Linked DNA regions of Homo sapiens. The protein of the gene in region 3 purifies or fractionates together with the protein of the main gene of each other region. This does not show direct contact. Each region holds a gene or a part of one and is shown on either strand. Other genes may lie near its edges. The genes, in order: CNIH4, TMEM106B and MFSD8.

Region 1 (3,655 bases), on a different chromosome or scaffold from region 3:
AAACCTCTTAAAAATCATCATTTTAGCATAAATGCTACATTTGTTAGAAAATTCAAAAGAAGGCTGGGTGCAGTGGCTCATGCCTGTAATCCCAGCACTTTGGGAGGCCGAGGAGAGCAGATCACCTGATGTCAGGAGTCGGAGACCAGCCTGGCCAACGTGGCGAGACTTCATCTCTATTAAAAATACAAAAATTAGCCAGCATGGTGGCACACCCCTGTAATCCCAGCTACTCAGGAGGCTGAGGCACAAGAATTGTTTAAACCCAGGAGTTGGAGGTGTCAGTGAGCCAAGATAGCACCACTGCACTCCAGCCTAGACAACAAGTGCAAAACTCCATCTCAAAAAGAAAGAAAAAAGAAAAAAAGAAAATTCAGAAGAAAAAGCAAGGGAAATAATAAAAACAGCAGAAAAAAAATCAAAGAGATAAAACTAAGAAAAAGGAAAAATTGGCAGATCAATCCAGCAGATCAATTGTCTAGTTAGTGGATGTTGTAGGAAGAGAAGGAGGGAAAAAAGATGGGGAAGAAACATCAAAGAAAGAATACAAGAAAATTTCCCATATTGAAAGAGCCTATCAGATGTCCAAAACAAACAAGAAAGGCCTTTTAAAAAGTACACAGAGGGCCAGGCACAGTGGCTCATGCCTGTAATCCCAGCACTTTGGGCAGATTACGAGGTCAGGAGATCAAGACCATCCTGGCTAACATGGTGAAACCCTGTCTCTATTAAAAATACAAAAACAAAATTAGCCAGGCATGGTGGCAGGCGCCTGTAGTCCCAGCTACTCGGGAGGCTGAAGCGGGAGAATGGCGTGAACCGGGGAGGTAGAGCTTGCAGTGAGCTGAGATCACGCCACTGCAATCTAGTCTGGGCCACAGAGCAAGACTCCGTCTCAAAAAAAAAAAAAAAAAAAAGTACACAGCGATACAGCACTGTAAAATTTCAAAACACCAAGGATAAAGATTCTAAAACTTTCCCATAGAGGACAGGAAAAGAGAGAAAGAGAGAGAGAGAGAGAGAATGAGAATGAGAATCATATAGAATAGATGAGAAATTCTTTGGGAGGCTGAGGCGGGCAGATCATGAGGTCAGGAGATTGAGACCATCCTGGCTAACACGGTGAAACCCCGTCTCCACTAAAAAATACAAAAAAATTAGCCGGGCGTGGTGGTGGGCGCCTGTAGTCCCAGTTACTTGGGAGGCTGAGGCAGGAGAATAGCATGAACCCGGGAGGCAGAGCTTGCAGTGAGCCAAGATCGCACCACTGCACTCCAGCTTAGGCAACAGAGTGAGACTCCGTCTCAAAAAAAAAAAAATGGCATGGTACTTCCCAACTTGAACCACTGGAAGTCAGAAGACCACCAAGGGGTGTCTTTAAAATTCTGAAAGAAAAATCTTTTCCAGCCTAGAACCCTGTACTCTGACAACTATGAATCAAGTGTAAAGATAAGACATTTTCAAACATGGAAGGCCTCAAAATTTAATTGGCAGTTACCTTATCTCAAGAAGCTACATGAGGCTGGGCGCAGTGGCTCACAACTGTAATCCTAACACTTTGGGAGGCCAAAGAGGGCAGATCACTTGAGCCTAGGAATTTCAGACCAGCCTGGGCAACATAGTGAAACCCTGTCTCTACAAAAAAATTTTAAAAATCAGCCAGGTATGGTGGCACACACCTGTAGTCCCACCTACATGGGAGGCTGAGGTGGAAGGATCGCTTGAGCCTAGGAGGTCAAGGCTGCAGTGAGCCATGATCGCATCACTGCACTCCAGCCTGGGCAACAGAGTGAGACTCTGCCTCAAACAATCAAACAAAATTTATGAAAATTTTTAAAATATGGAGCTTAGGCCAGGCATGGTGGCTGACACCTGTAATCCCAGCACTTTGCCAAGACAGCAGGATTGCTTAAGGCCAGGAGTTCAAAGCCAGTCTAGATCACATAGCAAGACCCAGTCTACAAAAAAATTTAAAAATTAGCCAGGTGGCTGGGCACGGTGGCTCACACCTATAATCCTAACACTTTGGGAGGCTGAGGCAGGCGAATCACTTGAGGTCAGGAGTTTGAAACCAGCCTGGCCAACATGGTGAAACCCCATCTCTATGAAAAATACAAAAAAAATTAGCCAGGTGTGGTGGCAGTGCCTGTAATCCCAGCTACTTGGGAGGCTGAGGCAGGAGAAACGCTTGAACCTGGGAGGCAGAGGCTGCAGTGAGTCCAGATCACACCACTGCACTCCGGCCTGGGTGACAGAGTGAGACTCCATCTCAAAAAAAAAAAAAAAAAAATTAGCCAGGCATGGTGGCATGCGCCTGTAGTCCCAGCTACTCAGAAGGCCGAGGCAGATCACTTGAGCCTAGGAATTCAAGAATAGCCTGATCACCACTGCAAGAAACCTTCTCTCTCAATAAATAAATAAATAAATAAAGAGTCATACATTAAAAAAAAATTATTTTCTCGGTAAACTACACAAGAAAGGTCTTCTTTCATTCAACCAAAGACAGACTTGAGCTTTTTTCCGTGAGTGGGAGGAGGGAGTTCCAACGCAGAAGACAAAAACAATTACCCTCATGATGAACATTTCCCTACTCTGAGTAAAGATGCTATCCGCTGTAAACAAGAGACAAGCAACATATAAAGAAACAAAATTTCAAGTCAGATCTTCTAGCATAATTTCATGATCTAAAATATTGTAAAACACAGCAGTTCCATCAAATTTCCAATGAATAAGAGACAACATGTACTCTAAAATCAAAAATACATCTGTTATCTATAATAATCTTAAGTATGGAAAATGACCTGGCTTCAATGCCAGAGAATGAGCAAAGAAATGTCTTACCTTGTTTAATTTTGAGCAACATGATCTAGCATTAATGTAATCACATTCTAAATCAGACAATGTAATTATCTGATGATCAAGATAAGGAATTATTATATTTCTTTTATAATAACTAAGTATTTAAGTTTCAGAAAGCAATCCCAGTTACAAGGCAGAATTAGATTTGACTTGAAAAAAATGAGTTGTTTCCTAAAGTTTGCTCATTAGACAACTCAATTTTCCCATTCATGTTCCTTCAACAAATTATTTTACAAAATAATCCTATTTTGCTCAAATCTAATCTGACCCAACCAGAACATTTAGTTTGAGTTCTTCAAATGTAAAACAATGGCTATTAAAAAAAAAAAAATGGGAAATATCCCAGCACTTTGGGAAGCTGAGGCAGGAGGATCGCCTGAAGCAGGAGTTCAAGATCAGCATAGGCAACATAGCAAGCCTCCATCTCTTTCACCCAGGCTGTAGTGCAGTGGCGCAATTCCAACGCACTGCTACCCCTGCCTCCTGGGTTCAAGCAATTCTTGTGCCTCAGCCTTCCAAGTAGCTGGAACTATAGGTGCGCGCCACCACCACACCCAGCTAATTTTTTGTATTTTTAGTAGAGACGGGGTTTCACTATGTTAGCCAGGCTGGTCTCGAACTCCTGGCTTCAAGTGATTCACTCACCTCACCCCCATCTCTACAAATTTTTTCTTTTTTTTTCATTAGCCGGGCATGAGCACCTGTAATGCTAGCTATTAGTAGCAGTACTGCTAAGGTGAGGCAGCAAAATGCCTAGAGCCCAGGATTCACGTTACACTGAGCTATAATCACACCA
Region 2 (3,655 bases), on a different chromosome or scaffold from region 3:
AAATAAGTACTAAATAATATTTTTTAAAAATACTGATTTTTATAAAGCTGAATATGTGAGTATACATAAATGTTAATAGGAATATGTAGAAAGATATGAAAAGATGCAATATGGGATGAGTTGAAGGAGAGAAAATAGTTTTAGTAAAAAAAAGGATGAAAGAATATGCTAGAGTCAGCAATTATATGATTACATTTATGGAGTCATTTACATTGGTATAGTCACAAATGTAAAGAAATTTCAAAAATGTTCTCAAACACAGTAAAAATAATCTTTAAATATATAAACATTTTATCTATTTGGCTCTTAATGTTCATGTCAATTTCATTTCTAGACATGATAGGAAAGAGATAGTTAATTTGAGGTCAATGGATCTTCTGATAAGACCAAGGATTGAAATTTAGAAGAATCTTGGAAGTCTTTGTATATGCAAAATTATGCTGGTACATGTCTTTTTCTGTACTGTCCACAGTTTCATTAGAATATTTAAGGGATCAATGATGTAATACAGGTTGAGAATACAAATCCTTATGAGAATTAAGACAAAGAAAAAATAAGACAGAATAAATAAAAATTTAGTAATAAAGGTTAGACATTTGTTGCTCAGAGTAGTGAGAATCCATTTAATTTAAAAGATGAAAAGAGATCACCATAATTGTTAACAAAGACCCTAAACTACCTATGATCTTTAATTGGCAAATGTACTTTCAGGAATTTATCCTAAAGAAATAACCTGAAATGGAAACAAAGTTTAAGCACAAAGATGTTTTCCTAATATTTGTAATAGTAAAATTAAACATTCATTAAGAAAATGGTTGAATTAATTATAATATGATCATGTAAAAGACTACACAAGACCATTTAACATGGGAAAATGTACTGTGACCTCAGTTGAAATGTGCATTTGTATATATGTGAATGAATGTGTGTATCCTTTACACATGAGAATGATTACATTTGTAAATGTATATGCATTGTTCGTAAATATATGTATATGGTAATAGTTCGACCTAGGTAGCAGAAGTAAAAATCTTTATACATTATAGTTCTCAAATGTCTTATAATGACAAATATTTTCATAAGTAGAAAGACAAATGTTACTAAAAAGTAGTACTACTAATATATACTAATCATTTTAAGAAAGCAAAGCAGTTCCATTTTCAACATACTTATAGATAATGTACAGAAAATTCAGCCTCTTATCTCATTGTCATCTAGTTAATGTTCATCCAAATAATCTTATTTTTCATTTAATGTTCAGTCTGTCTCAGTTTAAGTGGCAGTATTCCAAAATGTGAGAATTTCTGCATAATTACTTAAAATAGAGTATGATATTCACATTTAAATATACTTGCTGGTACTTAAAAGAAAACATCACAGGGTTTTTTATTATTTATTAGTACATATTTATGTTATTTGACATGAAAAAAGTCTTTGGAGGTAGGCCAAAAAAAGTCTGGCCAATGTTTTAAACAGTGTATAAAAAAGAAAATATGTTCCTTGTTCCAAAGGGCTAAGTGAGAAAATACCCAACAATTCCCCAGTTGCATAAAACAATTTACAATTAGCATTGTGTTACAAACGTTTTATTCACATATACGTATATTTTCCTATATTGTTGTTTTTAAAGAAAAAGCCCTTAAACCGGCAACTTTTGACAGAAAGCAATAAGAATAAATGGATCCACGGGATCCATTTTTTCTCTGTAATTAAGTAGTGATTCCACTTTAACATACCATTCCATTTCACTCACTGTCCTGACAAACCTCCCTCTTTCCAACCACCACCACAGACATCTCTACCTCAACCTTAACCACACCATTAACCTCTGCAAGAAAAAACAACTATCACTCTTCCTGGCAGATCACTGTCACTCACATATATCTCATGGCTGGCCAATAAATATTATCCCTTTTCCTAATTCAATAGTTAGCAAACCGTGCTCTTTTCAAACAAACGTTAACATGTAAAACAGGTAGAAAACCTCTCTAAGGTTTTTGTTTGTTTTGTTTTCATGAGTGGCAAGGCTACACGGTCCTTTCAAAAACAATGTCCTAAGAAACACACATTGTTTGCAAAAAGAACAAAGCTGGAGGCATCACTTCAAACTATACTACAAGGCTACAGTAACCAAAACAGCATGGTACTGGTACCAAAACAGAGATACAGACCAATGGAACAGAACACAGCCCTCAGAAATAATACCACACATCTACAACCATCTGATCTTTGACAAACCTGACAAAAACAAGAATGGGGAAAGGATTCCCTATTTAATAAATGGTCCTGGGAAAACTGGCTTGTCATAAGTAGAAAGCTGAAACTGGATCCCTTCCTTACACCTTGTACAAAAATTAACTCAAGATGGAGTAAAGACTTAAATGTTAGACCTAATATTTAAAAAACCTAAAACCATAAAAACCCTAGAAGAAAACCTAGGCAATACCATTCAGGATGTAGGCATGGGCAAGGACTTCATGACTAAAACACCAAAAGCAATGGCAACAAAAGCCAAAATTGACAAATGTGATCTAATTAAAGTAAAAAGCTTCTGCATAGCAAAAGAAACTATCATCAGAGGGAACAGGCAACCTAAAGAATGGGAGAAAATTTTTGCTATCTACCCATCTGACAAATGGCTAATATCCAGGATCTACAAAGAACTTAAAAAAATCAAACAACCCCATCAAAAAGTGGGCGAAGGATATGAACGGACACTTCTCAAAAGAAGACATTTATGCAGCCAACAGACACATGAAAAAATGCTCATCATCACTGGCCATCAGAAAAATGCAAATCAAAACCACAATGAGATATCATCTCACACCAATTAGAATGGCGATTATTAAAAAGTTCAGGAAACAACAGATGGTAGAGAGGATGTGGAGAAATAGGAACACTTTTACACTGTTGGAGGGACTGTAAACTAGTTCAACCATTGTGGAAGACAGTGTGGTGATTCTTCAAGGATCTAGAACTAGAAATACCATTTGACCCAGCAATCCCATTACTGGGTATATACCCAAAGGATTATAAATCATGCTGCTATAAAGACACATTAACACGTTATGTTTATTGCAGCACTATTCACAATAGTAAAGACTTGGAAACAACCGAAATGTCCATCAATTATAGACTGGATTAAGAAAACGTGGCACATATACACCATGGAATACTATACAGCCATAAAAAAGGATGAGTTCATGTCCTTTGTAGGGACGTGGATGAAGCTGGAAACCATCATTCTAAGCAAACTATCACAAGGACAGAAAACCAAACACCACGTGTTCTCACTCATAGGTGGGAATTGAACAATGAGAATACTTGGATACAGGGAGGGGAACATCACACACCGAGGCCTGTCGTGAGGTGGAGGGATGGGGGAGGGATAGCATTAGGAGAAATACCTAAAGTAAATGATGAGTTAATGGGTGCAGCACACCAACATGGCACCTGTATACATATGTAACAAACCTGCATGCTGTGCACATGTACCCTAGAACTTAATAATTAAAAAAAAAAAAACACGGCATTTTCACATATGCTAATTTACAAAAGAGAAACCAGTCACCTGTATTTCATCTTTAAAGCTGATAAAGGAATGGTCTATTAAACGTGGCAAAAACTGTATTTCCCAAATACAATGAAATCAAAA
Region 3 (3,655 bases):
CTGCTATGGAAAACAGTATGGCAATTTTCCAAAAAATTAAAAAATTAAAAAGAAAATCATAATATGATCCAGCAATTTCACTTCTGGATATATACCCAAAAGGACTAAAAGCAGGATCTTGAAGAGATATTTGCACACCCATATTGACAGCAGCACTATTCACAACAGCCAAGAGGTGGAAGCAACCCAAATGTCCATCGACAGATAAATGGCTAAACAAAATGTGGTAGGCCAGGCTAGGCTGTAATCCTAGCACTTTGGGAGGCTGAGGCCGGTGGATCACGAGGTCAGGAGTTCAAGACCAGCCTGGCCAAGATGGTGAAACCCCATCTCTACTAAAAATACAAAAATTAGCCGGGCATGGTGGTGGGTGACTGTAATCCCAGCTACCTGGGAGGCTGAGGCAGAGAATTGCTTGAACCCCGCAGGCGGAGGTTTCAGTGAGCCAAGATCACACCACTGCACTCCAGCTTGGACGACAGAGCGAGACTTTGTCTCAAAAAAAAAAAAAAAAAAAATGTGGTATATACTGAAGGCAATCAGAGTATGCTACTCCAAAAATCTGCTGTTTTGCCATATTAATTATCTCAAACTGAAGGCAACCGAGAAATAGCAGATGCAGGAAGGGTTCTCTGCTCTCCCCCTTTCTGCCTGAATGCAGAGAATAGATTGAATTTTGTTTTGTTGTTAATTCTTTGAGGCACAATTGAGATTCTGTTACCTACAATCTGTCTTGGGACATTAAGACACAGGTATAATTAAGACTGTATATTTAAACTTAAGAAATTTTGCACTGGCCAGGCGGGGTGGCTCACGCCTGTAATCCCAGCACTTTGGGAGGCTGAGGCGGGCAGATCATGAGGTCACGAGATCGAGACCATCCTGGCTAACGCCGTGAAACCCCATCTCTACTAAAGATACAAAAAAATTAGCTGGGCGTGATAGCGTGCGCCTGTAGTCCCAGCTACTCGGGAGGCTAAGGCACAAGAATTGCTCGAACCCAGGAGGCAGAGGTTGCAGTAAGCCGAGATCACACCACTGCACTCCAGCCTGGGCGACTCCACCTCAAAAAATGAATAAATAATAATAAATAATAAAATTTTTTTAAAAAGAAATTTTGCACATCTTCAAGAAGTAGCAGAACAAATAATTGACTGATGGCTGTAAAGATGAAATACTTTTGGCCAGGTGCGGTGGCTCAGGCCTGTAATTCCAGCACTTTGGGAGGCTGAGTCTGGCAGATCACGAGGTCAGGAGATCAAGACATCCCGGCTAACACAGTGAAACCCCGTCTCTACTAAAAATATAAAACAATTAGCGTGGTGGCGGGTGTCTGTAGTCCCAGCTACTCGGGAGGCTGAGGCAGGAGAATCACGCGAACCTGGGAGGCGGAGCTTGCAGTGAGCCGAGATCGCGCCACTGCACTCCAGCCTGGGCGACAGTGCGAAACTCCGTCTTGAAAAAAAAAAAAAAAGAAAAAAGATGAAATATTTTTAACTGGGGGCGGTGACTCACGCCTGTAATCGCAGCACTTTGGGAGGCCGAGGTGGGCAGATCACCTGAGGTTGGGAGTTCGAGACCAGCCTGACCAACATGGAGACATCCCGTCTCTACTAAAAATACAAAATTAGCCAGGGGTGGTGGCACATGCCTGTAATCCCAGATACTTGGCAGGCTGGGGCAGGCGAATCGCTTGAATCTGGGAGGTGGAGGTTGCAGTGAGCTGAGATCGTGCCATTGCACTCCAGCCTGGGCAACAAGAGTGAAACTCCGTCTCAAAAAAAAAAAAAAAAAAAGATGAAATACTTTTGTGAGTACATGAAAGTGTTAGGGACTCTTAGTAGTTGTCTAGTTTCGTTTGTATGTACATTCCTTAATGTTATTTGTTTCTTTTCATTAAAAAATATTAACATCAAATAAATTTGTATACTTTTTTAACTGTTAGTCTTTCTTTTGTCAGCTTAATTCACAAGCCTTAAGCACATAGGAGAATAGAGGAAAAATTTCTCCTACCCTAGAATACATATAATGAACTATACAGCCTTTAAATAAAAGGAAATTATCACAAGTGCAACATGAACCAACTTGAGGACATTGAGTGAAATAATCTCATCACAAGAAAAAAAATACTATATAATTCCATTTATATGAGCTATCTAGAATAGTCAAATTCCAAGAAACAAAGTTTGCTAGGGCTTGGGGGATGGGAAAATAGGGAGTTGTTTAATGGGTATAGAGTTTCTCTTTTGCAAGATGAAAATGTTCTAGGGATTGGTTGCACAACAATGTGGATATACTTAAGGCTATTGAACTTAGATATGGTAACACGGTAAATTTATGTCACGTATTTTTTAGCACAATAAAGATAATTTCAGAGGCAATGAAAGTAAATGAAGTAAATGAAGTTAAAATATGACATCTGATCTGAATTGTTAAAATTATGTATTTCTAATACTTACCTACACTGCTGAGAAACATAGTAAGATATAAAATCCTAATAGATCTCCATCGGCTCTTATAATGCTCTTCAGTCTCTAAAATGTCCCATTCTCTAGGTGTAAAGAAGAAAAAAGTAGTATAAATTTATCTCATTACATGTGGATCTTAAGTGTCAACAGTTTTATTCTCTAGTTATGAAAATGATGTGATAGAGGTAGAATTTACCAATATTGATTCTGCTACACTAATTTATCTATGAATAAGCATTATTTTTTTGAATTTCCATGGATTGTATATATGCATTATTGTATACAGAAATTTGGGAAACAGTATAGTTTTAAAAGAGGAAACTTTTTGCAAGGCAATTATTTTGCTACCATTGACATGCACAGATTTATTAATCAAGAGTGTTGCAATTTGTAAAAATGAATAAATTACGTCAAGATAAATCAAATAAACTAGCTACAACTAGATCCCCCGTAGCTACTAAGTACTAAAAAATAATAACTGTCATCATTATAACATGCTCTACTTGATGACAGCAAATTAAATTGCTGCAGGAAGCTCTTTTGGCTTCCTACTTCAGAAAACAGGAATGATACCAGGAAGGTTTAACGTAACCTAAGACATTTTCAGCCCTGGGACCTCCTAAATGGGTTACCAGATAAATTTTATCAGCAGACCAAAGAGAGACCATGACTCCCCAGACTTAAGTGATCTTTTGGATAAGCGTCTGATCTGGACCAAAGGCATGTATACTAAGTAGATATCTTACCTCCATTAGGTGACACATGAGTCTATATACTCATTACATTTTCACACACACAATAGAAAGAGTTAACAAGTTCACCTTAACGTGAGCATTATCTTTTCAAATAATCAAGACATGCAGAACAGACAAAATGCCTTCTTATGTTCCAAGATTAATTTCTTAAAAATAAGCCTTAGAACTGTCAAATTAGTCTTCAAAAAAGAAACTTTTTTTTTTCAAACGTGATATGGTTGGGAGTGGTAAAGAGGAAAGGAAGAAGAGAAACAATGTTTTTAGATGTATTATATGCCAAACATATTAGTTCCTAATATATTTAAAGTGTTTAACACTATATATGTCATTCCATATAAACAAACCTCTTCTGAGTCAAAGGAGATAAGAAAAAAATAAAAATAATGTAGCTTACCTGAGAAAAATACCAGAACCCTAGATGCCCATACTTTG

What was found.
Region 1: the proteins of MFSD8 (region 3) and CNIH4 purify together in Homo sapiens (affinity purification with mass spectrometry; one large-scale study listed by BioGRID and IntAct). This does not show direct contact.
Region 2: the proteins of MFSD8 (region 3) and TMEM106B purify together in Homo sapiens (affinity purification with mass spectrometry; one large-scale study listed by BioGRID and IntAct). This does not show direct contact.

Annotation. Positions count from the first base shown.
Region 1 is NC_000001.11:224,359,750-224,363,404, reverse strand, and holds part of CNIH4 (protein cornichon homolog 4), read right to left. Parts: intron 2,911-3,655; coding exon 2,842-2,910; intron 1-2,841. UniProt on the Homo sapiens protein: Involved in G protein-coupled receptors (GPCRs) trafficking from the endoplasmic reticulum to the cell surface; it promotes the exit of GPCRs from the early secretory pathway, likely through interaction with the COPII machinery.
Region 2 is NC_000007.14:12,224,741-12,228,395, reverse strand, and holds part of TMEM106B (transmembrane protein 106B), read right to left. Parts: intron 1-3,655. UniProt on the Homo sapiens protein: In neurons, involved in the transport of late endosomes/lysosomes. May be involved in dendrite morphogenesis and maintenance by regulating lysosomal trafficking.
Region 3 is NC_000004.12:127,955,042-127,958,696, forward strand, and holds part of MFSD8 (major facilitator superfamily domain-containing protein 8), read right to left. Parts: intron 2,552-3,655; coding exon 2,460-2,551; intron 1-2,459. UniProt on the Homo sapiens protein: Outward-rectifying chloride channel involved in endolysosomal chloride homeostasis, membrane fusion and function. Conducts chloride currents up to hundreds of picoamperes.